7 linked regions of the Homo sapiens genome follow. The protein of the gene in region 6 purifies or fractionates together with the protein of the main gene of each other region. This does not show direct contact. Each region holds a gene or a part of one and is shown on either strand. Other genes may lie near its edges.

Region 1 (3,500 bases), on a different chromosome or scaffold from region 6:
GATCCGAAAAAGTTACATAAATTGTGTTTGATTAATGCGTATCTTGGGTCTCTTTTAGATCTAGAGTGTCTCTCATCTTTTTTAAGAAACATTATTTGTTGAAGAAAATGAGTAATTCTGTATAATTCCCCACATTCTAGACTTTACTGATTGTATCCCCATGATTTCTCTGCCTCTTGTGTTTCCTGTTAACTATAGTAACTATAAGTTAAATACGGAAGTTTGTGATTAAGGTGTTTTTTTATTTTTTTTTTTATTTTTATTTTTTTTTGGGAGACAAGATCTTTCTCTGTTGCCCAGGGTGGAGTGCAGTGGTGCCATCTCGGCTCATTGAACCTCTGATTGCTGGGCTCAAGCAATCCTCCCACCTCATCCTCCTGAGTAGCTGGGACTACAGGCGTGTACCACCAAGCCCAGCCAACATTTATATTTTTTGTAGAGATGGGATCTCACCATGTTGCCCATGCTTGATTTTTAATAAGAATACTTCATTGGTGGTATTTATAGATTTTGATTTATTTCCAAATTGTTCTTTCAAAAGTTTCATTTTATCTAGTCATTTTACAGGACAGCTTTTATCAGTTCCTGGTATAAAATCCTTTTAGCCTCAGCCTTATAATATGAATATCTATACATACATAATACTTCATACACACACGATATACATATATTCCCATGTATATATATGTGTGTGTGTCAGCCACTTACATGTCCTGTTACTCTTCTATGAATCTTAAATTTGATATTGCTGTTTTGAATCTACTTCATCCCCTATGCCTTCTATATTCTCTCTGCTTGAAATCTACCCTCACTATCTTGAATGATGAAGCCTGGTGACAACTTTTTAGATAATTTTATGTAAGATAATTATTTGCTAAGTCATCCAGTGACATACTCGGGTATTGTTTGTCTCCCTACCAGCAGCATCTAGTAGGTACTTCAAAATCAGAGCACTTTATTCTGTATTTTTAATTTTTTCTGTCTTTGCCTCTTACCCAGGAATGCAAACTCAGATGTCTATCCACAGAGGCCTAAAGTGGGCTGTAACATGGTTTGGCAAACTTTTTCTGTAAATAGCCAGATAGTAAATATTTTTAGCTTTTGAGTAGTTTTGTGGGCAACTACTCAACCCTGTACTCTGCTGTTGTTGCTTGAAAGCAGCCATAGACAAACCGTAAACAAGTGAGGCTGACTTTGTTCCAATTTATCCCATTTCTTTGCTTTTAAAAAAATACCTGTGTATTCGCTTAGCTGGAGTTGGTCTACAGGCTGTAGTTTGCTGACCCCAGGACTAGAGGTTTGTTGCCATGTGTGAATTTGTACTTAATCTACTCAGATTAAAAGAAAGAAAAGCTGGAAAATCACTGTATTTGATGAAATATCCCATTGTATAAGTGTTCCCAAATTAGCCTAGAATGTTATGAAATATTATGAGCCAGTAATGTCTATAGGCTTATTTCTGCCTGAAGGCTACTAGTTTTATCTTGAGAATCTCATCCTCATTTCCTGGCAAAATGAGCACAGAATAAATGCTTGTTGAATAAATAAATAAATGAACTTCATACATTATTAATTTGTTTTTGTTTTCTCAAACTACTAGGAAATTTTGTCTGTGGCTAAAAAAAATAAAAAGGAGAATGAGGTAAGAAATTTATAATGTAAGATTAAGTTTAGAAGTCATATTTACTCCTCAGTTACTAGTCCTTTTTCTTTAATCAGCAGTATACGTTCTTCTCACTATTATCCTGTTTCTTTGCTTTAAAAAAAAATACCTATGTATTCACTTCTTCCATATCCAACATTCTTCTTTTTTATGTATCAACTTTAGTTAGTTGTTTTATTGCATGATTCTTGATGTATAAATGTTAATTTATGGGTCTAGCAATGTTGCTTTTAACTTGTGAATCTGGCAGTGATACAAGTGCTCGTAACCATGTGGATATAAACCGTGAATCATCTTATGGAAGCTGTGAGGGATGCCTTAATCTTGCTTCAGACCTTAAAGATTTTTTAAGTTTCTTAAAAGTTCTGTTTGAGAAGGCTTGATTTCCGAGCCACCTCTTCACTTAGCCCATTTCATGTAGAGAGGTTCCTTGTTATCTGACTTTTTATTGTTCAAGTACTTAAAATTACAAGGTTGCCTAGGGAAGCAAAATAATCATGACATGAAAATATTCATGAATGGATATGAACTTCAGGTAGTTAATTTACATATTAAAGATTTTTAGGCCTTTGGGAAATTAATGTTATGTTTATAAAATGAGAGATAATCTATTTGGTCATATAATTTTGTCCAAAATTTATATTGTAAAAGTGTCTTGGTTTTTATTCTTTGTTAAGTTATTAAGGACTGGTTTATGGGTGCAGTTTAGTTGGATTTTTAAAGATTTAGTTAGATAAACATTTAGTTGGATTTTTAAGATAAAGTCTAGATGTAATCTTCTGTAATTTACTATGGGATTTTGGCTTCATTTTATAACTTACAGTCAGTAAGAAATAGTTGTTAAGTATGGTATTTTAATGAATTTCGACACTTGCATACACTTGTGTAACCACCATCCAAATCAAGGTATAGAACATTTCCATTGTAAAGGGATCTCTTCTATGTCTTTCCACCCCCAAACCCAGAGGAGGCCACTTTTTACACCTTTTATAGGATGGCTTATTATTTCCTTTCCACTCAACATGTCTGTGATACTCATTTATGTTGTTGAGCATATTAGTAACCGGTTTCTTCTTATTGACTAGTATTCTGTTGAATGAATGTTACAATTTTCTCATCCATCCCCTTATTGATGGGCATTTGGGTTGTTTGCAGTTTGTGACTTTTATGAGTAAGGTTGCTATGATAATTTGCACACAAGTCCATGTGTAGACATGTTTTCATACTTTCTGCCTGTGTACCTGGGAATGGTATTGTTGTGTTACGTGGCAAATGTGTGTTCATAAGAAAGTACAGATTTTCCCCCCCAAAGTAAACACATCATTTTATTCTCTCGCCAGCAATGTTTGAAAACTCCAGCTTACATTATTGTCAGCATTTGATAGTCTTTTTAATTTCAGCCATTTTATTAGATGAGAAATGGTAACTTGTGTGGTTTTTAACTTGCATTTTCCTAATTACTACTGAAGTAGAGTATATTTTTATGTTCTTTGATAACTATGTTTTCTTTCTTTTTTTTTCTTTTTTGAGATGGAGTGTCACTCTGTCGCCCAGGCTGGAGTGCAATGGCACGATCTCGGCTCACTGTAAACTCTGCCTCCCAGGTTCAAGCGATTCTCCTGCCTCAGCCTCCCAAGTAGCTGGGACAACAGGCTCATGCCACCATGTTCAGCTAATTTTTGTATTTTTAGTAGAGACAGTGTGTCACCATTTTGGCCAGGATGGTTTTGATCACTTGACCTCATGATCTGCCTGCCTTGGCCTCCCAAAATGCTGGGATTACAGGCGTGAGCCACCATGCCCGGCCTGTATGTTTTCTTTTGTAAAGTATCTGTTA
Region 2 (3,500 bases), on a different chromosome or scaffold from region 6:
TAGCATGTACACAAGGAACTTTCTTTTTTTCATTTAACAGTGTAACTTGGAGATTTTTCCATTGCGGAACATAGGGGCCTCCTTTTTTCCTCTTACTTGTTTTTAATGGCTATACAATATTCTCCTTTATATATCTTCAGTAATTTATTTAGTGTACCCCATATTGGTGGATATTTGGGTTTTTTTCACATTCTTTTCTTTCTATAAACTGTGTTGTAATATGTAACCCTGTAAATATATCAGTTTCGCATGGGTGCAAAATTTGCACATTGCTGTACAAGTACATAATGTAAATTCCAGAAAATGTACTTGCTGGCATAAAGTATTACGAAGATGTAATTTTGATAGTGTGAGAGTGCTCTTTATATGATAGCATATGTGTGTTAGTCCATTTTTTGCTGCTCTAACAGGGTAATTTATAAAAATATTTGGCTCAGGGTTCTGGAAGCCGGGAAGCCTAAGAACATGGCACAGGCATCCCATGAGGTTTCCCCATGGTGGAAGGCATCACATGGCGAGCAAGCTAGACAGAGAGGGCCCTAGAGAGAGAGAAAAGTGGTGGCCAGACTCGTCTTTTTATCAGGAGCCCATTCCCATGGTAACCAACCCACATCCCACTCGGGTAATAACAGAATTAATCCATTCATGAGGATGAACCCCTCATGGCCTAATCACTGCTTAAATGCCCCACATCTTAATACTGTTAACAATGCCAGTTAATTCTAACAGCGACCTTTGGGGGACATACTGAAACCACAGCAGTGTGCTGTCACACTTTGAATTTCTGTCTTCTAGGGTAAAAAATGGTATATTTGTAATGTTCATTAGATTTCTCTTATGGATTAAGGTTGTGATGTTCTTTATGTACCCTCACTCTCCAGGGCTCTAGGATGCTTTCCTAGGGTTGAGTTAGAACCTTAGAAGAAAGTGAATCTGAGTATTTATATTGATAAAATGTTTCTTAGGCACACACACACATCCAAAGAACCCTTACTACATCTTGATTCAGTTGCACACACTAAGCTCTTACCCCAAATTTGTGATGATTTATTAAAACTGGATAAAGTGATTGGCATATGAATTCATTAATGATGACCGATAGCAGGCAGTTCTTTTTGTTGTAATATCAGTGAAAGCCTAAGGAAGAGAGTGGCTATTTGAAATAGATTCTGATGTACAGGTAGGATTTCCATAGAAGGAAAGAATGGCATGAGCAAAAGACGGGGGAACAAGATAGAAAGGAGAATTTAGAAGAGGAGTAGAAACAAAGCTGGAGCCAGGTTATAGAAAATCTTGTCTTAGAGAAACATTATACTTTAGGAAGTTAAGCTGTATGCCATGGACAGTGGATATCATTGGCAATTTGAGAACAAGAAAGAGTGAGCAGTGGTCAAGAAAGGTGAGTCTGGCAGTATCGTGTAGGATGGATTGAAGGACACACTGGAAACGGGCACCATTTTAGATGTACAAAAGATATGTGGCCCTAAACTGATGAAGCTGGCAAAAGAAATGAAAATAAACTCTAGGCAGAGAATATAAAACAAGAAGTAACAAACTTGACTGAAGAAGGAAGAGATGAAATAAAGCTATAGAATTTGAGTGGCGGAAGGGAAAGTGTAAAGGGCAGATTTATTTTAAGGATAAAGTGGAAGAATTTAAATCTTGAAACATGTTGAATTTTGAAGCAAGTCCTAGGTCTCCCAGGTGGATGTGTCCAGTAGCCAGGTCTAAATGTAGCATAGGAAAAAGGTTTTAGAGAGCTGTATCTTAAAGATACATTTTAGCTCTCTGTTGGATTTTCCACCATGCTCACCTGCCAGATTCTCTCACTGCTTGTAATTCTGATCTTTGTTATCTCCAACCTTACTTGACTGCGGTTGATTTGTTCCAACACCTATCTTTTAGTCTACGTCACATTGCTGTCTAAACTTCTTTGCGTTCTTCCCTTTTTGCTACTTAAGATAAAATCTCAACATTTTTTATTGCATACCGGAGTCCTGTTACCTTTTCCATCTTCCTCTGCCATAAATGCCTGTAAACCAGTCACTTTACACTTTATTTAAAAAATACATATATATCAATGGAGACAAAAGAAGTAATTAGTGTGTGGCATTAGAGAATGTATCAGAAGAGAGAACGTTTTTAAAAGACTTAAGTGAACAGAAGAATTTATTTGAATAAAGAGAAAAATCACTGAATTTGATAGATTTTGACCATACAGAAGAAAATTTTAGTAGAATAATGGAGATGGAATCAATGACCTAAAATTTGACTTTGAATGGGAATAGGTAGGCAGCTCAAAGGATGCAGCGAATGTTTTAAGATCACTGTCAGATAGAGGGGAAAAAGGATAAATCATGATAACTGATATTAAAAAGGGTTAGAGCAGGCTTTCTCAATTTTGGCACTGATTGGATCATTCTTTGTTGTGGGAGCTGTCTTCCATATTATAGGATGTGTAGCATTGTCCCAGTCTTCCACCCACTAGATGCCAGGAGCCATTCCCAGTTGTGGCAGCCAGAATCATCTCCATGCATTGCCTAATGTCCCCTTGGGGAAGGGATTAAAATTGTGCTTGGTTGAGAATTGAGAATTGAAGATGTGTGTATGGTATCTCTAGGAAGCATGAGAAGGGCCTGACTTTGGTAAAGAGGGGGAAATCTGTGGAAGAATGCGGGAAAGAAGTTGCTTGACATGGAAGGAGTTGAAGGCACTGCAGGAGTGGAATCAGTTATACCAGTGTCCTTTTGAAATTAGATAGCACTTTATAGTTAGTCAGGTCAGAAGGTTTTGTAATATTTTTCTTCAGGTAATTGGGTCTGTCGTGTTTCTTGGTTGTCTACTGATACTATAATATAGTCCCTTTTTTTTCAGCATGATTTGACCACACAAAAAGCCCCAGTGGAGATTTTTTCCTATGTTTCTGTTTTTTTGTGTGTGTGTATGCCCTTCAACTATAAATATGGCAATTGGTAGATAACCTGCTCTTTGAGTAAATCTGTACCTCGGTTTATAATTAACAATCTATTAATCTGGTACAATGAAGTTAGAGATAAAAATAGGTATAGAACAAAATCTGTCATCTCAACATGTGATTTGTGGAAATTAATTTCCACTTCCAAAATGTGTAAATGCTTTTCCATAATTTGTTCATTTATTTTCATTGAAAATGAAAGACAGAAAATGTAGATGTAATTAATAAAGGGTTCTCTTTTAATTTTCTTAATTCTTTTTTCTCTACCAAACTATGTGACCTTCGTCAGATTTTATGACACATGCCATTGTGTGTAAGTTGTCACCTCATAACTAAAATATTTTGAAGGCATGTAATTCATAGGAAGTCCTTGTTTTTACCCCCTTTTTTGCATTTGCATTAAAAATTTTTTTGTAGATACATAATAGATAACACCTGTTGCAGGGGTACATATGATAATTTTTAATACATTTCTATAATTAATTTTTACTTTTAACTTTCAGGCCGAAGAACAGTTGAGAATTGT
Region 3 (3,500 bases), on a different chromosome or scaffold from region 6:
GGTATATCAGGGATTAATAGTTTTTATCTTTTTTTTAAAGGTGCCTCTCTCAAGAGCATAATGGCTTCTCCTTACACATTGATATGTAAAATATACTTACTTTTAGAACACATGAATCATTGCATCATCCTTTTATTCTTTACCACATTGATGCTGTGTTGAAAAGCCTCTGAACCTTGCTGGAATACTGTCCAACCTCAGAGGTTGTATATGTCATTTTCATTTCACAAAATTAGCCCTTTTATCGCAGCCATTAAAACATACATTTGGCCAGGCGCGGTGGCTCACACCTATAATCTCAGCACTTTGGGAGGCCGAGGTGGGTGGATCACAAGGTCAGGAGTTCGAGACTAGCCTGGCCAACATGGTGAAACCCCCTCTCTACTAAAAATACAAAAATTAGCCAGGTGTGGTAGCATGTTCTGTAATCCCAGCTACTCTGGAGGCTCAGGCAGGAGAATCACTTGAACTTGGGAGGAGGAGGTTGCAGTGAGCCGAAATGGTGCTGCTGCACTCCAGCCTGGGTGACAGAACAAGACCCTGACTCAAAGAAAAAAAAAAAAAAAGGTAATCCAGAAAAGTACAAAAAAGTGAAGATTACCCGTAATCCCACCACCCTGAATTTATCATATGTAGCATTTTACATATGATATATATACATGTTTATAATTAAGTACATGTTTACTCTGTAAAGCTTTCTAAAAGTTAATCTAATATAGTAATCAACCACATAAAGCACATTTCATATTACAACACATGTTGATCTAAGTTGTGTAGGTGTATGTGCAAGTACTTACAGGAGGTTTATGTTTAAAGGTTTTTTCCCCCCTTTTCAACAACTAAAATAGATTCACACCATACATGGTGTTTTGTTGAAGGTAGATAGAACTTAAATATTTCTGTAGTCTGGAGAATCAAAAAACAATAACCTTCCGTCTATATTCTTCTCAACAGCTTCTGTAAATAGATTCACTTGTCTTAGTGGCTCATGATCTGCACTCTGCGTTAGTCATTTGAATTTTAAAAAATACAGATAGCAGGCTTTCACTCCCCATAGAGTTGGTTTGGGTTGTTATGTTGGGGGCCCAGGCATCAGTATGTATTTTCTAAAAGCTCCCCAGGTGATTCTTACATACACCTGAAGTTAAGAACTAACTAATCTAAACTAAAGCTTGAAATTTAGCATCATTTTTATTCATCTCTCTGCTGGTCAGTTTCTAGATTATTTTATATACTTTTCAGTTTTCGGAAAACTTCTACATTGCTTTATTTGATTCTCACAACGGTGCTGAGAGTTAAGCAGGACTATTTTCTTTTTACTGGTAGAATAGAAAGGTAATTCATTAAGAACCCAGTTAAATTACCTTTGACAGTCTTGTGTTTGTAGGCACACCTGCCTGAAGGAGTGTGCCGGAATTGTTTATTCTGTTCATCTTTAGATAATTAATGTAAGATATTTGAAAAATATACCTTTGGCATATTCTAGGTTTATTATAATGAATGTGAATTATCTTTGTAGTAATTTTTCAAAGTGACCTATTGGGCCAGGTGGGATGGCTCACTCTTGTAAACCCAGCACTTTGGGAGGTGGAGGCGGGTGGATCACTTGAGGTCAGGAGTTCGAGACCAGCATGGCCAACATGGTGAAACCCCATCTCTACTAAAAATACAAAAACTAGCTGGGCATGGTGTTGGGCACGTGTAACCTTAGCTACTCAGGAGGCTGAGGCAGGAGAGTCACTTGAACCCAGGATGCAGAGGTTGCACTGAGCTGAGATTGTGCCACTGCACTCCAGCCTGGGCAATAGAGTAAGACCCTGCCACAAAAACAGAAACAAAAAACTCAGAGTGACCTATTGTATGACTGTTGTGTTTAAGACAATGTGCAAGGCCTTTCAGAAAAATGATTTTGTTAGTAAAATGTCAGTTTAATAGAAGAGAAGCTAAAACACTTGCAAACAATACAAGGCATGGCCTGTGATTAAGATACTCCATGCAATTGGGAAGAGGTTGTTGCTGGAAACATTTCAGTTTGGCATATCTTCTTAATCTTCCCCTCCCTTGCAACAGAAATTTTATAACTAAGCTTTTTTTTTTTTTTTTTTTAACATTTTATCGTAGCTCTTGTGAATGTTTAAGGGGAAAAGTTACTCAGCCATAAAGTATTTTGGCAAAATGATTTTAAAATTTCCTTAGGCTGGGAGCAGTGGCTCACGCCTGTAATCCCAGCACTTTGGGAGGCCAAGGCAGGAAGATTGCTTGGACCCAGGTGGTTGAGGCTGCAGTGAACCATGACTGCCCCTGCACTCCACCCTGGGCGATAGAGCAAGACCTTGTCTCAAAGAAAAGAAACTAATTATTAAGTGGGATTTGTTTTTGTTTGGGAGGTATTTCTGAACTTAAAAAGGAAAATTGCAAACCATTATAGGGACTAGTTTGCCTTTGGAGGAAAAGGAAAATTGCAAACCCTTATAAAGACCAATTTGCCTTTGGAGGAGAAAGCCAATTTATCATCCAAAATCCTCAGAATTCTCAAATACAAAAAGTTCTGAAAACTGAAAGTTTCTTCTTAAGTTTGGTGGCAAAAGTTATTTATAGTCTTGACTTATCCCATTTGATGTGAATCTGCTTACATTTCATTGCACAAAATGTTTCTGTGATTGTGAAATACTGTTCCAGAAGCCACTGGGAGGTTTAACTTAATAAATAGTATATGCAACGTTTTACTCTTCTAAAATCTGAAAATTGTGAATTCTGAAACATATCTCAGAGGGTTTCATTAAGAATTTTTGGGCTTATACAAATTTATGCTACATAAATGTTTATAGTCTTGTCTTTCTCTGGTATATACGTTTTTACTTTGCCATTTTACTTTAGGCCCTCAAATCATGCAAGTTATATTTTAGATTTTGTTTTTGTCATTTCAAAATAGCTATGTTACTACTATGATAGTTTAGGATGTGATAGGTTAATCTTGCTTTCATTTTTTATTTTGTTATTCAGATTATGTTTACTGCCCAATTTATTTTGTAGTTTTTTCCTCAAAGCGTAAAAGTTTGGCTTCAGGCCAGGCGTGGTGGCTCACGCCTCTAATCCCAGCACCTTGGGAGGCCGAGGCCGGTGGATCACTTGAGGCCAGGAGTTCGAGACCAGCCTGGCCAACATGATGAAACCCTGTCTCTATTAAAAATACAAAAATTAGCTGGGTGTGGTGGCATGAGGCTATAATCCCAGCTACTCAGGAGGCTGAGTCAGGAGAATTGCTTGAACTCGGAAGGCAGAGGTTGCAGTGAGCCAAGATAGCGCCTCTGCACTGCACTCCAGCCTGGGCAAGAAGAGCGAGACAGTGTCTCCAAAAAAAAAAAAAAAAAAAAAAAAAAGGTTTGGCTTCAATCTGCCTTACACTTTCAGTTAGTTCCTTTATCCTGGTCATGCCACTTTCACAGTTTTGCGGCAGTTGCTAGATTCCCTGTAGGACAAAAGAGGTGAAACTATTTAGT
Region 4 (3,290 bases), on a different chromosome or scaffold from region 6:
GAGAAACTAAAATGATATTAAATATTTTTAACTGTCTTTCATATACTAAGTAGATTTCATTTTAAACACTTAAACCTTTCTGTTTGTTTTTAAGTTGGGGAGAAATGGAAAATTGTGGGACTATGATATCGTGGTCTTGTTCCTTTGTTTATTTCGTTCAATTTTAATTAGGTCAGAAGAGTGAATGGGGGAGGGAACCCAGGAAGTTTTGGCTGTTTTCATTAAGGTTGGTTTTCTGTTTTTTGTTTTTTGAGATAGAGTCTCACTCTGTCACTCAGGCTGGAGCCCAGTGGTGTGATCTCGGCTCACTGTAACCTCTGCCTCCTGGGTTCAAGTGATCCTCCCACCTCAGCCTCCCAAGTAGCTGGGATTACAGGCACTCACCACCACAACTGGCTAATTTTTGTATTTTCAATAGAGATGGGGTTTCGCCATCTTGGCCAGGCTGGTCTCGAACTCCTGACCTCAAGTGATCTGCCCGCCTCAGCCTCCTGAAATGCTGGGATTACAGGTGTGAGCAACCGTGCCTGGCCGTTTTTGTTAAGGTTATTTGATCTGCATTATTATTACATGCCTATGATAAATTTAAATTACCTGAGTGATAAGGACATTCTGATTATACTATTGTAAAATGCCCGCTTGCCTTATATTTTTAAGTGGTTGTTTTTCAAAAGTGTTTAAATAAGGCAGTCATATTTCAAAGTATAGAGCAAAAGTTTTTTTATTATTATTTTTGAGACAGGGTCTCCCTCTGTCACCCAGGCTAGAGTTCAGTGGTGCAATCTCGGCTCACTGCAACCTCCACCTCCTGGGCTCAAGCAATCCTCCACCTCAGCCTCCCGAGCAGCTGGGACTACCAGTGTGCACCACCATGCCCAGCTAATTTTTGTATAGTTAGTAGAGACAAGGTTTCACCTTATTGCCCAGGCTGGTCTCAAACTCCAGACCTCAAACAATCCGCCCGCCTCGGCCTCCCAAAGTGCTAGGATTATAGGCGTGAGCCACCACACCCGGCCCAAAGTTTTATAATTAAACAGTATTAACAGTCTTAAATACTATTAAATATATGTTCCAGGAAATGTCTACTTTTAACCCGCAACTACTGAAAATAAGAGTCAGCATGTAGCAGCATTAATGACCCCTGAATTTGAAATGATTTCTGTTTATTTATACCTAATTGTAGTTGCTGCCTAGCCTAATAAATCTGTAGTTTTCAAAAGTTAAAAGAAACTAGTTCCCAAAGTTTTGAGTCTCAATCCATCTACTTCCCTGAATAATAAAACCTGAATTTTGTAATACCCACTTAAAAATTTTATTCTCAGCTGGGCGTGGTGGCTCACACCTATAATCCCAGCACTTTGGGAGGCCGAGGTGGGCGGACCATGAGGTCAGGAGATCAAGACCATCCTGGCTAACATGGTGAAACCCCATCTCTACTAAAAATACAAAAAATGTAGCCGGGCATGGTGGCACGTGCCTGTAGTCCCAGCTACTCGGGAGGCTGAGGCAGGAGAATTGCTTGAACCTGGGAGGTGGAGGTTGCAGTGAGCCGAGATCAAGCCACTGCACTCCGGCCTGGGAGACAGAATGAGACTCCGTCTCTAAATAAACAAACAAATAAAAATGTATTCTCTAAGGACATTTTTTTTTTGGTTACTGGTTCCTAGAGATGAAATGATTATCTTATTTTCAGTAGGCAAGGTAGTTTAAATGCAGAAATTCTGCGATATATGAATATTGTGACATCAAGAACAGCTTCATTGGCATATTCTTTGGGAAAGAGGCAAGAAGAATAAAAGGGCTAAAAGTATTTTATTTTCAGCTTATGAGTGTTGTTACTGCTTCAAATTGTGTTTAGTCACCTGAGCCATAAATCAGTTGTAGTAGGGCTATTGTATTTTAAATATATTTTTTGTTCTCCAAGGAGACTTATCTAGTTTGCCACCTCCTTGCCTATTGCTCTGATGTGGTTTTCCCTCCTTTTTTATTTATTGCACAAATATCTAACAGTTAAAAAAGAAAAATTTCAGTACCATATCAATTGTCTTTCATATTTTGTGTTCCTCCTTTCCAGTGCTTTTCTATGTAAGTAAATATTCTGATGTACTTGTAAGTAATCACTCAGAGCATAATGTAATTTTGTCTTTGGTGTCTTAAAATTTTGCAGCCAGGCAAGAGAGGTTCACAGGGAAGGTAGGAACAAGTGATTATTCAGTGTGAGGATGGGAAGAAGATCAAAGATAAGTAAGGGCAATGATTGTATCCTTCCCGTGTCATTGCCCCTAGTCCCCAAGCCACCCTCCTGCAATCATGAGTATAGTGGTGTATTGTGGAAGGCAGCATGCCCAGTTTTCCAGTTTCAAAATATATTATTTAGCAGTGAGGCTTAACTCCCAGTAAATGAAGGGGTCTGTGAGTAGGGGAACCCTTCAGACTGGTTATATTATGAGCTGTAGAACTGTTGCCATTTTGTTGTTCCCAGTTGTGCCCATAAAGAGATGTGTCTGAGCTGGAGACTTAGGCTCAGATGGGGAACAAACAGCCAAGTACCAACCTTAGTTTGGTCCAATAGGTGAATTTTAGCAACTCTCTAAACTCAGCTCTATACCTGTAAGACTCAGAAGTGATACATATAGTGATAGAAAAAAATACTTTAGAAAATAGAAAACAACTTACTGGTTACTCTGCTAATGTGATGGAGGTTGCAGAATGGAAAATGAATGAATGCAAAAAAATACAGCTGGATTGTGTGCCACAAGTTTATTACTCAATAAATATTCTGTGGTTTGACGTGCTGTATTGTATTTTTAATGTATCCTGATGAGAAAAACAATCCTAAGACATCCTGTAAGTATCAGACACGATTGAATAAGAAGGGGAATGACTCCATGAAACTATATTTGGCATCAGTAAGATTCTTCTGCCAGTTTTCTCGAAAGCGAACCATTCCTGGTCTACAAAGGAAGAAAAACAAACACTTTTAAAGTATTTTTAAATCAAAAGCTTTTAAAATCAAACAAAGGGGATTCCCTATTTACTCTTTTATATTCCTAGTAAGCAAGAAGCCTCTTTTATTGGCGGGGGAGGGGAGGTAGCTAAGGTTCTCTATGTCTATCCTTTACTGTTTCTTAAGCCCAGTCAATGAAAGGATTTATGAGCTTATATGTAAAGATACTTTAAGAGAGCTGCTATAAAAGGGATTATTATACATGAGTTAATTTTATGTGATATTGAAGTTTTCCTTAGAAACGATAGACATGACCCACTTTGCCTCCACCCCACTCCAGCAA
Region 5 (3,500 bases), on a different chromosome or scaffold from region 6:
TTTTGTTAATTATGACCCAATATAGTTGTGGCAAAAAAGAACATACTATGTTAATGCTAGATTAGAATTTTTGAATCTTTTTACATAGATTATCCCTCCTCCCTCTTCCCCTGCCTGAGAAAGCAGATTTTTTTTTTCATTTTACATATGAGGAAATATTCAGAAAGATTTATTAAGTTGACCAATTAGGTTAATACGTTCTAGAGTTTGTCCTGGAACCTAGGTCTCTGATCTCTGAGCATTTGTTTCTCTAATCTATGCTGACATCTTTAAAAAGTGATGGTGGCCAGGCACGGTGGCTCATGCCTGTAATCCCAGCGCTTTGAGAGGCCGAAGCGGGTGGATCATGAGGTCAGGAGCTCAAGACCAGCCTAGCCAACATGGCGAGACTCCCCGTCTCTACTGAAAACACAGAAATTAGCCTGGCTTGGTGGCGCCTGCCTGTAATATCAGCTACTCGGTAGGCTGAGGCAGGAGAATCACTTGAACCTGGGAGGCGGAGGTTGCAGTAAGCTGAGATCACGCCACTGCACTCCAGCCTGGGAGACAGAGCAAGACTCCATCTTGGGGGGTGGCGGAAGTGATGGTGATTACTGGGATGCATTAATATCAGAGGTGTTTTGTTGTTGTTGTTGTTGTTGTTTTTTGGTTTTGTTTTATTGGAGACAGCATCTTACTCTGTTGCCCGGGCTGGAGTGCAGTGGTGTGACCTTGGCTCACTGCATCCTTGACCTCCTGGGCTTAAGCCGTCCTCCCTCTTGAGCCTCCTGAGTATCTGGGACCACAGACGCATGCTACCACACCCGGCTAGTTTTTGTATTTTTTTGTAGAGACGAGGTTTTGCCATGTTGCCCAGGCTGGTCTTGAATTCCTGGGCTCAAGCAATCTGCTTGCCTTGGCTTCCCTTTGTAACACCTCCGAAAGGTATAGACGTGAGCCACTGTGACCAGCCCTTCAGCTGTCTTCTAAAGAATGAAATAGTTTTCAGATATTTTGCTTAACTAGAAGAAGGCAAAAAAGTAGGTTCTGTGATTGGATAAGTTTTGGAAATGTTGGAGTATAAAAAGTTAAAACCACTTTCTTTCCTGTAAGACTTCTTTGTTCTTAATAAGCTAATGTATATTGTGTTGCTAGATAAATGGGATAAATTAAGTGACGTTTTCTGAACTTAACTACAAAACTGTTTCTTAGGACTATTGTTACAAGAACACACTTCAAGAATATTTGCTTTTGTTAACTCCAGTGCTATTTTAATTACTTCAAATTACTTCATTTTCTAAGTTTATCTTTATGATTTTTCATGACTGTAGTTTGTAGAAATACACTTACAAAATAACATGGTACATGCCTGCACGTTGTATTTATATAAATGCCAAACAAAAGTTTTATGATGTTAAGGGACTTCTGGTATTTTCCATTCCATTTCATTTAAAAAATGCTGGTTGTGGTTGAACACTATGGCTCATACCTGTAATCATCACAGCATTTTGGGAGGCTGAAATGGAAGAATCACTTGAGTCCAGGAGTTTGTGACCAGCCTGGGCAATGTAGTGAGACCCCATCTCTTAAAACAGTAAATAAATTAGCGAGTGCCTGTAGTCCTAGATACTGGGAGGGTGTGTGGGGTGGTGGGGGGAGGGGCTGAGATGGGAGGGTCACTTGAGCCCAGGATCTAGGCTGCAATGACCTATGATGACACTGCTGCACTGGGCAACAGAGCCTGGGCAACAGAGTGAGACCCTGTCTCAAAAAAAAAAAAAAAAAAAGCTGATTATGACTGTTAAAGTGATTTCATGATTCACTAATGTGGCAACCCTCAATTTGAAAAACACTAGTCTATGTGGTCACTTAGAAATTTCTTTTTCTGAGGCAGGGTCTTGCTCTTGCTCAGGCTGGAGTGCAAGGATGTGATCATAGCTCACTCCAACCTTGAACTCCTGGGCTCAAGAGATTATCACTTTTTTTTTTTAAACTGCTTTCTTAAGTTCATTTCTTGGTTTTGAGGGATAGTGGCAAATCAAATTTGCAGAATTCTCTAGTTCTTATTTGTTTCAAATTTATGGCACTATGTGGTCACGTTGTTGCTATTTCTTTAGTAGTGCCCCGAGATTCAAAATAATTAAGCAGGAAGCTTGGAAGTCTTCTAATTAGACTAGGCAAGAACTAAATGCAGTATTTTTTAGTGTTTAAGTAAGCATTAGTAATAGACTATAAAGTTTCATCTTTTTTATTAGATTGCTGAGCTGAAAAGAGGTGCTGAAATTATTGTTTGCACACCTGGTCGAATGATTGACATGTTAGCCGCTAACAGTGGTAAGTCAGGGGTATTTTTTTGGTGTCTTTTATTTTTGAATTCTTTACTTTTTTTTGTTAAAACAGATGCAAGAAACCAACAAAGGGTTTCTATATTTCTTCTTAAAGCTGCAGTATCTTAAAATTTGTAGCCTGTAGTCCCAGCTACTTGGGAGGCTGAGGCAGGAGAATAGCTTGAACCCGGGAGGCGGAGCTTGCAGTGAGCCAAGATCGCACCACTGTACTCCAGCCTGGGTGACAGAGTAAGACTCCGTCTCAAAAAAAAAAAATAATAATTGTAACAAGTTGATTATTACAAGCATTAATGATATTTTTGCAATTTAAAATTTTTTTTCAGAAGTAACTCCATCTGATCATAACTTGGATTCTTAATCCAGTTTTGGCCTGGCTTTGCTTAGTAAAAGAGTGGGGTAGTAGCTTTTTCTTTATTACAAAATTTAGACTTTTTCTCCACATGAGCTAGTATTTTCTTAGATACTACATAAATTAAGATATTGCAGCTTCAAGAAATTTTATCTTTTGTAAATATTGCATGTTTGTAGCTCAAATGTTATGCTTTGTTAAATTATTCCCTATCAAAACTCTTACTAAACTGTTGACATTATTTAACTTCTGTGGAGAAAGGCCCTTCAAGATTTATAGAACTGGGCTTCCGAGACTTAAACCATCAAAGGTAGGTAATTTAATGCTGTTCCCGACCTTGCAAAACTAATTGGGGCTACAAATGCTAGTGTGGAATACTTAAATATTAGATAGCACTTATTTTGGCACTTTTTATTTTTTGAAGAAAATGCTCTCAGAGGTTTCCATTGCAATATTTAGTGTGTACATAATAGAGTATTAAAAACTGAGTTAGTGCATGTTTCTAGTAGTATTCTGCTTGAATTTCTAATTCTAATTGTACATGAAGTTGGCAAAGTGACATCGAAATTGAGAAGTCATTGTGCTTGTCTAGCATATGGAAAGTTTTGGTTTGAATGCTGATTAAATAATCCCTTTTTTTTTTTCTCAATGCTGCATTGATTAAGTCTCCTCCTGAAATTCATCTTGATTAATTTTACCTTTTTCTCTTATCTGTCATTGTGGTCTATTTTTAAATAACTATTTTATACGTGTTTTTGCCAGGTGATTGATTCAACAGTTGATAGCAATGCTTCTGTTAATATTTTAGAAGGAATTTCCTATGT
Region 6 (3,500 bases):
TGGTAAGGGAAATTTGTTCTTATGGTAGAGAAGCACATTTAGCTGTCTGGAAATAGGTTACATTTTCAGAGGGTGAACTGAACTTAGAGTAATTATCAGTATAGCATCTAGTATCTTTTTATTTTTTTCCTTATAGTAGTAGTATTTTTTTAAGTAAGAAAGGTTTTCTTTAAAGGAGATTATTGGCCACTGAGAATCTGAAGAAAATTTGCTGATGAGTTTTGGGATTTATTCTCCTATTAACTAACTAATTGAAAAACTGGTATTTAGAAGTATGTGAATTTATAAAATAGCGAACATTTGGGATCATCTTACTACTTTTACTTTTAGTGAGTGGTACAAAGAAAGTGTTTTTTCCTAACTTCAGCAAAGCTTTTTTTCCATGGTAAATGGATTGGTCCAGGAAGTGAGCAAGTTGCTTTCCAGAGTGGTTTCAGATTCAAATCTGTTCAAGAAAATATAATTCCTTGAAAACATTTTTTTTTGCATATCATGCCTCTGCTCATTGTAAAAGTAGCAGGCAAATTGTTAGTTTGTGCTTCACTTCTGCTTGAATTACCCATTTTGCCATAAGCTTTTTCTCTACAATAACATTCTTAGCGGGCAAAAGTTTGTTCTCCAAAGATTCTGGTATACTGTGCACTGGAGGTTTGTGTGTGTGTGTGTGTGTGGCTCTCTTCTGCTTGAGTGTGTTTCTAGGAGAGATTTGAATCACTCTAAAAAGAGTGATGTTTGTTTTTATGATATCCTCAAATCTAATGGGGTGAAATCTATACATTTTGAAAGTAATATTGAAAATATTTAATAGTAATTACAGTAAACAGTAAGTGTCAGTCATTATTCTAAGTGCTTTACAAATATTAGATCATTTAATCCTCATAATAATCCTGTGAGGTAGTTACTACTCCCATTTTATAGATGAGGAAACTAAGGTACAGAGAGGCTAAATAAATTGTTCAAGGTTACAGACTAGTAAATGGCAGGGCTGAGATTTTAAATGTGTGTGTGTGTATGTGTGTGTGTGTGTGTGTGTGTGTGTGTATGTGTTAGTAATCTTAGAAATTCTCTGGGGGACTTGATGGGAAGAGGAGGGGTTTAGAAGGTTATGTATGGCAAAGCTGGAGAACAGGAGTTGTGTCACAGTGTGGTTTGAGTGTGGTTTTCAGATTACCCATATAGTGATAGAGGGAGTGGTATTCTAGAATGAGAGTTAGGGATGGTACAGAATTCAAATATGGGAGGAATTTATTAAAGTCAGCCAAAGGGATGTATCTTTGAGAGGTGTGATATTCTTGTAGACTCTTTAATATGTAAATTTAGTCCAATAAAACTAAAGGCAAATCTATTATCTTTTGTTGTTAGCCATCAAAGTCAGCGTTAAAACTGTTGTATCATTCTTAAATTAATGAGGAAATCTGTTAGTTGATGCCTGTGGCATGTGAGATGCAAGGTTTGATGGAGAGTGTTCAATATGGAATCACTGTACAGAATAAATAATGTAGTCTTTAATATAAAACTATACCTTTTAATAGAATTAAAACTGTACATAAGCAACTCTTTTCTTCTTACTGCTTTTTCTGAAGATACTAGTGGCAGAGCAGAATTTTCATTTCTTTGTGATAAGTAATTTCATAAGCTATTTAGGTTTATTGACACCTACCAATAACTTTCAAAGAGCTTAGTCTGAGGTGAACTTAATCTGATGTAACCAAGGTATGTAATTTATAATTTATTGAAATTCATATGTAAATTTCTGATACCTGAATGTTGAATGTTTAAAAATCATGTCTGATTACTGTATTTTTGATATATTCTGATCCTAAGCATAGCTTTCTCTATGGTATCATAGATTTTCCTGAAAAATAATTCTTTTATTCAATTGTTTCTTTTATTTTTTCTTTTTCCTGTGTGATTCTCAGTTATTAGCTAATTGAAGAGGAAGAAGAAGCAATTAGAGCTGTGTGTAAAAACCATACCAGCCCTGCTTTTCTGATTGACAGAAGGAGCCAATCACTTTGCATTCCCAGTTTACACTTTAATAAAAGAGAAGGCTTTAGTCTTTCTACTTGGACCATTTTGGTGCTCTTCACTGATTTCTTACTGGACTTTTCAAAAACCTGAGTCACTTTCTTTCTTCATCGTTAAAGTAATTGATCATGATATTAATTAGGGAACTATGGTATTGAAACACTCTTTTTGATCATTCATAGAGACACATTTCCATTACAACTGTGAAGCTATAATACAGCTATATTCACTTGCAAACCTGAGAGCACAATTCAAAGTTAAAAAGATGTATTTTTGTTTGGTATGTGATATTACATTATCTAGGCTTCTACTTTTGGACAAATAATTCAAGATTTTATTGTAGGTTCTATTATTGATTGACAGATTTCTTAAATAAGTCCTTTAGAGAATTTTAATAGGAACGTATTTTATTTAGGCATGGATAGATATAATTCAACAGGTGGAAAATGGGGCTGAAAACCATTGTTTCCAAAGAGTTACAATATTTTGAGGGAAATGGAAATGGAAGTAGCTAATTATAACATGACAGGAGATTAAATATAAATGTAAGCAAACAGCAGGAAAATATTTATTTTTCGCTTTTGACAAAAACTAAATCCAAAACCAGTTTTTGCATTATTACTTTTTAACCTTTAAATTTCTGCTAATATTGATGGTTTCATATACAGACTTTTCCCAATTTATAATAGTTCAACTTAAGATTCTTTGACTTTAGGATGGTGAGAAAGCAATATGTATTTAGTAGAAACCTTACTTTGAGTACCCATACAACTGTTCTGTTTTTTACTTTCAATATAGTATTCAATAAATTACATGATATATTCAACACTTCATTATAAAATAAACTTTGTGTTAGATACTTTTGCTCAAGTGTAGACTAATGTAAGTATTCTGAGCATGCTTAAGGTAGGGTAGGCTAAGCGATGATGTTTGGTAGGTTGAGAGTTATCAGATGCATTTTTGACTTAAGATATTTTCAACATATAATGGATTTATCAGGGTGTAATCCTATCATAGGTTAAGGAGCATCCGTATTCATGTGTGAAACAATTTTAATAGTTATAGAAAGTTGATAATGAAAAAATCTCAGTTATTCACAGATTCACAAAGCTGGGGAAATTGCAGAGAAGTGATTTACTTGATGCTTTTTAAATCCACTTATCTTTTCTTCAGTTTGCTTCTTAGCTTTCTTTAATTTTTTTTGTGCCTAATGATAGTAGATAGAATACGTGATACATGAAATTATATGGCTAAATCGTAATTTGTTAATTACTAGTTCATAATAATTAAGGAAGAGTGAAAGGAACTTCATCTTAATCTAGTGAAACATTGCCACTTTCTTCCCTTCTGACATGGTATAGTATATTCTATAGTTTTTTAGATATAGTTGTCACGAAATTTCTTCTGACATTCATTTATTTGTATGACAAATAATGAGAGTGTTCTCCGTTTGAAGCATAGTTCATTTGCGT
Region 7 (3,500 bases), about 31 Mb from region 6:
CCAGTGTTTAAAAATTATCAGAGGTGTGTGATCATAATATACTTTTAAATGTCTCAGAAATGCATACTCATAGTGTATATATTTCCATAGGTCTTCATATTTTAAAAATATAACTGTCTGGAATAATTTCTGAGATTTTAAATTAGAGTTATGTTTTTGGATATTGTTTTAAAACGTGTTAACAATTTTAACAAAAATCTTAAAGAAATGTTTATCAACAGTTTATCAACATCTGTGCTTCTTTAAAATAGATGGTTATCATCAGGAACATTAGTATTATTATTCGTATTTGATCCTTTGCCTTTATTTCCTAATTTTCAAAATAATGAACTGGTGCCCTGGCAACCTCCAGAGGTGATGAAGTTGCTTTGTTTTTTCTTTTTTCAATTCATGTAAATTTAATGGTTACAAGTGCTTTTTTGTTACATGGATATATTGTGTAGTGGTAAAGTCAGACTTTTAGTATAAACTAAAATGTACATTGTACCCATTAAGTAATTTCTCATCCCGCACCTCCCTCTCACCTTTCCTAGTCTCCATTATCTATTATTCCATACCCTATATACATGTGTACACATTATTTAGCTCTGACTTGTAAGTGAGAACATGTACCATTTGACTTTCTGTTTCTGATTTATTTCACTTAAGGTAATAGCCTCCAGTTCCATCCATGTTGTAAAAGATATTATTTCTTTTCTGTGTGGCTGAATAGTATTCCTGTGTGTGTGTGTGTGTGTGTGTGTGTGTGTGTGTGTATACACATTTTCTTTATACAATCATATGTTGATGTACACTTAGGTTGATTCCATATCTTTGCTATTGTGACTAGTGGTGTGATAAACATGAGTGCAGGTATCTTTTTTATATAATGATTTATTTTCCTTTTGGCAGATACTCACAGTGGGGTTGCTGGATTGAGTGGTAGTTCTATATTTAGTTCCTTAAGAAATCCCCAAACTATTTTCCATAAAGATTGTACTAATTTACATTCTTACCAAGAGTATACAAGCATTCCCTTTTCTCTGTGTTCTCACCAACATCTGTTACTTTTTTAACTTTTTAATAATAGCTAAATATTCTGACTAGTATAATATATCTCACTGTGGTTTTAATTTGTGTTTCTCTGATGATTAGTGATGGTGAACATTTTTTTTCATGTTTCTTGGCCACTTGTATGTCTTCTTTTCAAAAAGTCTATTCATGTTTTTTGCCCTCTTTTTAGTGGGGTTATTTGTTTTTTGTTGTTGTTGTTGAGGGGAACATTATTATTATAACCTTAAGAAACAGATATGTAATATGTAGGATTACTTGTCCCTACATTAAATTGTGCCTGAGTGCTATACTTTAAAAATTTATGGTGTAGCATTTTCAGTCTTTGTTTCTCCTGAATTTGTCATTATCTCTTGTAGCTGCAATTAGCTAGCAGCTCTGTGTGTTTATTATCAGCGGAAGAAAACAGGGCTAGCTGAAAATTTGTGTTTGAGCAATACTTTTATAACATAAAATACAAGCTTTTCTTAAAATTGATGAAGGAGGTTCATTAAGCCATGTTCCAGGTATATCATCCTTAGCTAATTTCTTTAGGAAAAAAACACTACTGCTAAGTTAGGGATGTGTTTATTATGTCTGTGCTCTCACTTTACCACTAGCACCCATCAGTCTGTGTAAAGTAGAAAAGTTGTTCCTTAAAAGAAGAAAGGATATTCCGGAGTTTATAGACAGGATTGTAGAATGTCTAATAGAGGCAATTCTAAATTAGAACAGGCATTTCATATGTAACAAGTAAGGTTGTAACTTGTTTCTTTTGACTGGACCCTTGGCCTCATTCTTACTCTCTACTGAATGACCTTTTCTAAACAGAAATATAATCATTCTCCATTAAAGTCTTTTTGTTGGTTTCTCATCACAAGAATTCCATCCAGACTCCTCATCGCTGCCTAGTGATCTCACCTGGTTCTTCCCTGACCACGTCTTCCTCCGCTTTCCCTGCCATTCACTATGCTTCAGCTCCATTCACCTCTTTCTGTTTTTCAGAGATAACAGGTTCCGTCCCTTCTCAGGCTTTTACCCACTTGCTGTTTCTTTCTTTCATAGACCTTTCGGTGGGCCCTTTGCACTCTTAGCTCTGATGTCAGCCCCTCAGGACAGCCTTCCCTGACCAACTTCTTTAAAGCAGCTCCTCAGCCCCACTCTAGTCATTCTCTGTCACTGCACACTATTTTATGTCCTTCATGAGCCATGTTTGCTTATATATTTATTTTTGGTCATCCGTCTCTAGAATTTAATATTCTTAAGGGCATTTTATTCACTGATTTGCTCCCAATTTCTACTGTGTTTGACACATAGTAGATGCTTAAAGAATAGTGATTTACTGGCAGTTTGGCTTCTAAGCCTAAAAAGGATAGTTGTCATGAATAAATCATCTTTGGCATTTTCTGTTTAATAGAAAACAATTGAAGATAGAAATATAAAGAATAAAAAGTCAACAAATAATAGAGCATCCAGTGCATCTGCCAGGTAATAAAGTTACCAATATTTGTCATTTATGGGCTTGCATTCTAGCAAAGCTAGTTTTAATTTAACTTTCATAAAGTAAATTTCATTTGGTGTTACTGTATTTTCTTTTTATTTCCATTTCATAAAATGAAAGTAGTTAACTTCATGATAAAACCCCTTGGTTGATGATATTATTTGAAATAAAGTAATTTATAAAAAGTAAGTCTATTACTGATTGTTTTAGTGCCTGGAATGTTTATGCAATACCTTTGCTCTCCAGGATCGTCCTAGGAATATTTTTCTTCTTTCTTAATGTCAGTGATTAGGGATTCTTTGTGCTCCAGACTGCTTCTGGAATAGAGCTTCTTTCTCCTACTTTTCCTGAGACAAGCAATATAAAATGGTAATAAAGCTGAAGTCTAGCAATGATACTTATTCATTATCAAGTATCATTGTCTAACATGAGAAATTGTACTGAAAGCCTTCAGAATCTATGAACTAAGTAGGTTTATTAAAATGATTATCTGTATAGCTTCATTCACACCAATGATAATGAATGCCTAACTCATAAGTGCTAATCAAAAACCTTCTGAATCTTTAAAATTATCGTTAGTCAAATTATCATTAATCAAATAAAACAGAGCTAGCAAGCTTTTTCTGTAAATGGCCAGTTAGTGCATATTTTAGGCTTTGTAGGCGATACAGTCTGTATTGGAACTACTCATTTCTGCTATTTTAACAGGAAAGCAGCCACAGGCAAAACTTAACATGAATGATTACAGCTATGGTGCAATAAACTTTGTATATCAAAACCAATGGCTGGCCAAATTTTCCCACCAATCCCTGATATAGATAGTACTATTCTTTCTAATTTTATATTTGGAATGCTTCATGTAACAAAATGATGAAAGAAAATATTAAAAGAGTGATTATAACCTACTGTATTGTTTTTTCCATGTAACTTGAGAAGTGGTCCATATTTCTTAAGTTTCTAATTACAAATA

Evidence for each region.
Region 1: the proteins of ANKRD50 (region 6) and HELLS purify together in Homo sapiens (affinity purification with mass spectrometry; one large-scale study listed by BioGRID and IntAct). This does not show direct contact.
Region 2: the proteins of ANKRD50 (region 6) and ARGLU1 purify together in Homo sapiens (affinity purification with mass spectrometry; one large-scale study listed by BioGRID and IntAct). This does not show direct contact.
Region 3: the proteins of ANKRD50 (region 6) and SLTM purify together in Homo sapiens (affinity purification with mass spectrometry; one large-scale study listed by BioGRID and IntAct). This does not show direct contact.
Region 4: the proteins of ANKRD50 (region 6) and NKAP purify together in Homo sapiens (affinity purification with mass spectrometry; one large-scale study listed by BioGRID and IntAct). This does not show direct contact.
Region 5: the proteins of ANKRD50 (region 6) and DDX46 purify together in Homo sapiens (affinity purification with mass spectrometry; one large-scale study listed by BioGRID and IntAct). This does not show direct contact.
Region 7: the proteins of ANKRD50 (region 6) and MAP9 purify together in Homo sapiens (affinity purification with mass spectrometry; one large-scale study listed by BioGRID and IntAct). This does not show direct contact.

Annotation. Positions count from the first base shown.
Region 1 is NC_000010.11:94,569,788-94,573,287, forward strand, and holds part of HELLS (lymphoid-specific helicase), read left to right. Parts: exon of another isoform or gene 1-1,600; coding exon 1,601-1,642; exon of another isoform or gene 1,643-3,500. UniProt on the Homo sapiens protein: Plays an essential role in normal development and survival. Involved in regulation of the expansion or survival of lymphoid cells. Required for de novo or maintenance DNA methylation. May control silencing of the imprinted CDKN1C gene through DNA methylation.
Region 2 is NC_000013.11:106,544,138-106,547,637, reverse strand, and holds part of ARGLU1 (arginine and glutamate-rich protein 1), read left to right. Parts: intron 1-3,477; coding exon 3,478-3,500. UniProt on the Homo sapiens protein: Dual function regulator of gene expression; regulator of transcription and modulator of alternative splicing. General coactivator of nuclear receptor-induced gene expression, including genes activated by the glucocorticoid receptor NR3C1.
Region 3 is NC_000015.10:58,923,680-58,927,179, reverse strand, and holds part of SLTM (SAFB-like transcription modulator), read left to right. Parts: intron 1-3,500. UniProt on the Homo sapiens protein: When overexpressed, acts as a general inhibitor of transcription that eventually leads to apoptosis.
Region 4 is NC_000023.11:119,920,172-119,923,461, reverse strand, and holds the end of NKAP (NF-kappa-B-activating protein), read left to right. Parts: 3' UTR 1-2,790; downstream 2,791-3,290. Other genes in the region: AKAP14 (A-kinase anchor protein 14), read right to left, coding at 2,855-2,954. UniProt on the Homo sapiens protein: Acts as a transcriptional repressor. Plays a role as a transcriptional corepressor of the Notch-mediated signaling required for T-cell development. Also involved in the TNF and IL-1 induced NF-kappa-B activation.
Region 5 is NC_000005.10:134,786,279-134,789,778, forward strand, and holds part of DDX46 (probable ATP-dependent RNA helicase DDX46), read left to right. Parts: intron 1-2,234; coding exon 2,235-2,313; intron 2,314-2,937; coding exon of another isoform or gene 2,938-2,990; exon of another isoform or gene 2,991-3,336; intron 3,337-3,500. UniProt on the Homo sapiens protein: Component of the 17S U2 SnRNP complex of the spliceosome, a large ribonucleoprotein complex that removes introns from transcribed pre-mRNAs.
Region 6 is NC_000004.12:124,706,233-124,709,732, reverse strand, and holds part of ANKRD50 (ankyrin repeat domain-containing protein 50), read left to right. Parts: intron 1-3,500.
Region 7 is NC_000004.12:155,356,466-155,359,965, reverse strand, and holds part of MAP9 (microtubule-associated protein 9), read left to right. Parts: intron 1-2,446; coding exon 2,447-2,517; intron 2,518-2,763; exon of another isoform or gene 2,764-2,877; intron 2,878-3,500. UniProt on the Homo sapiens protein: Involved in organization of the bipolar mitotic spindle. Required for bipolar spindle assembly, mitosis progression and cytokinesis. May act by stabilizing interphase microtubules.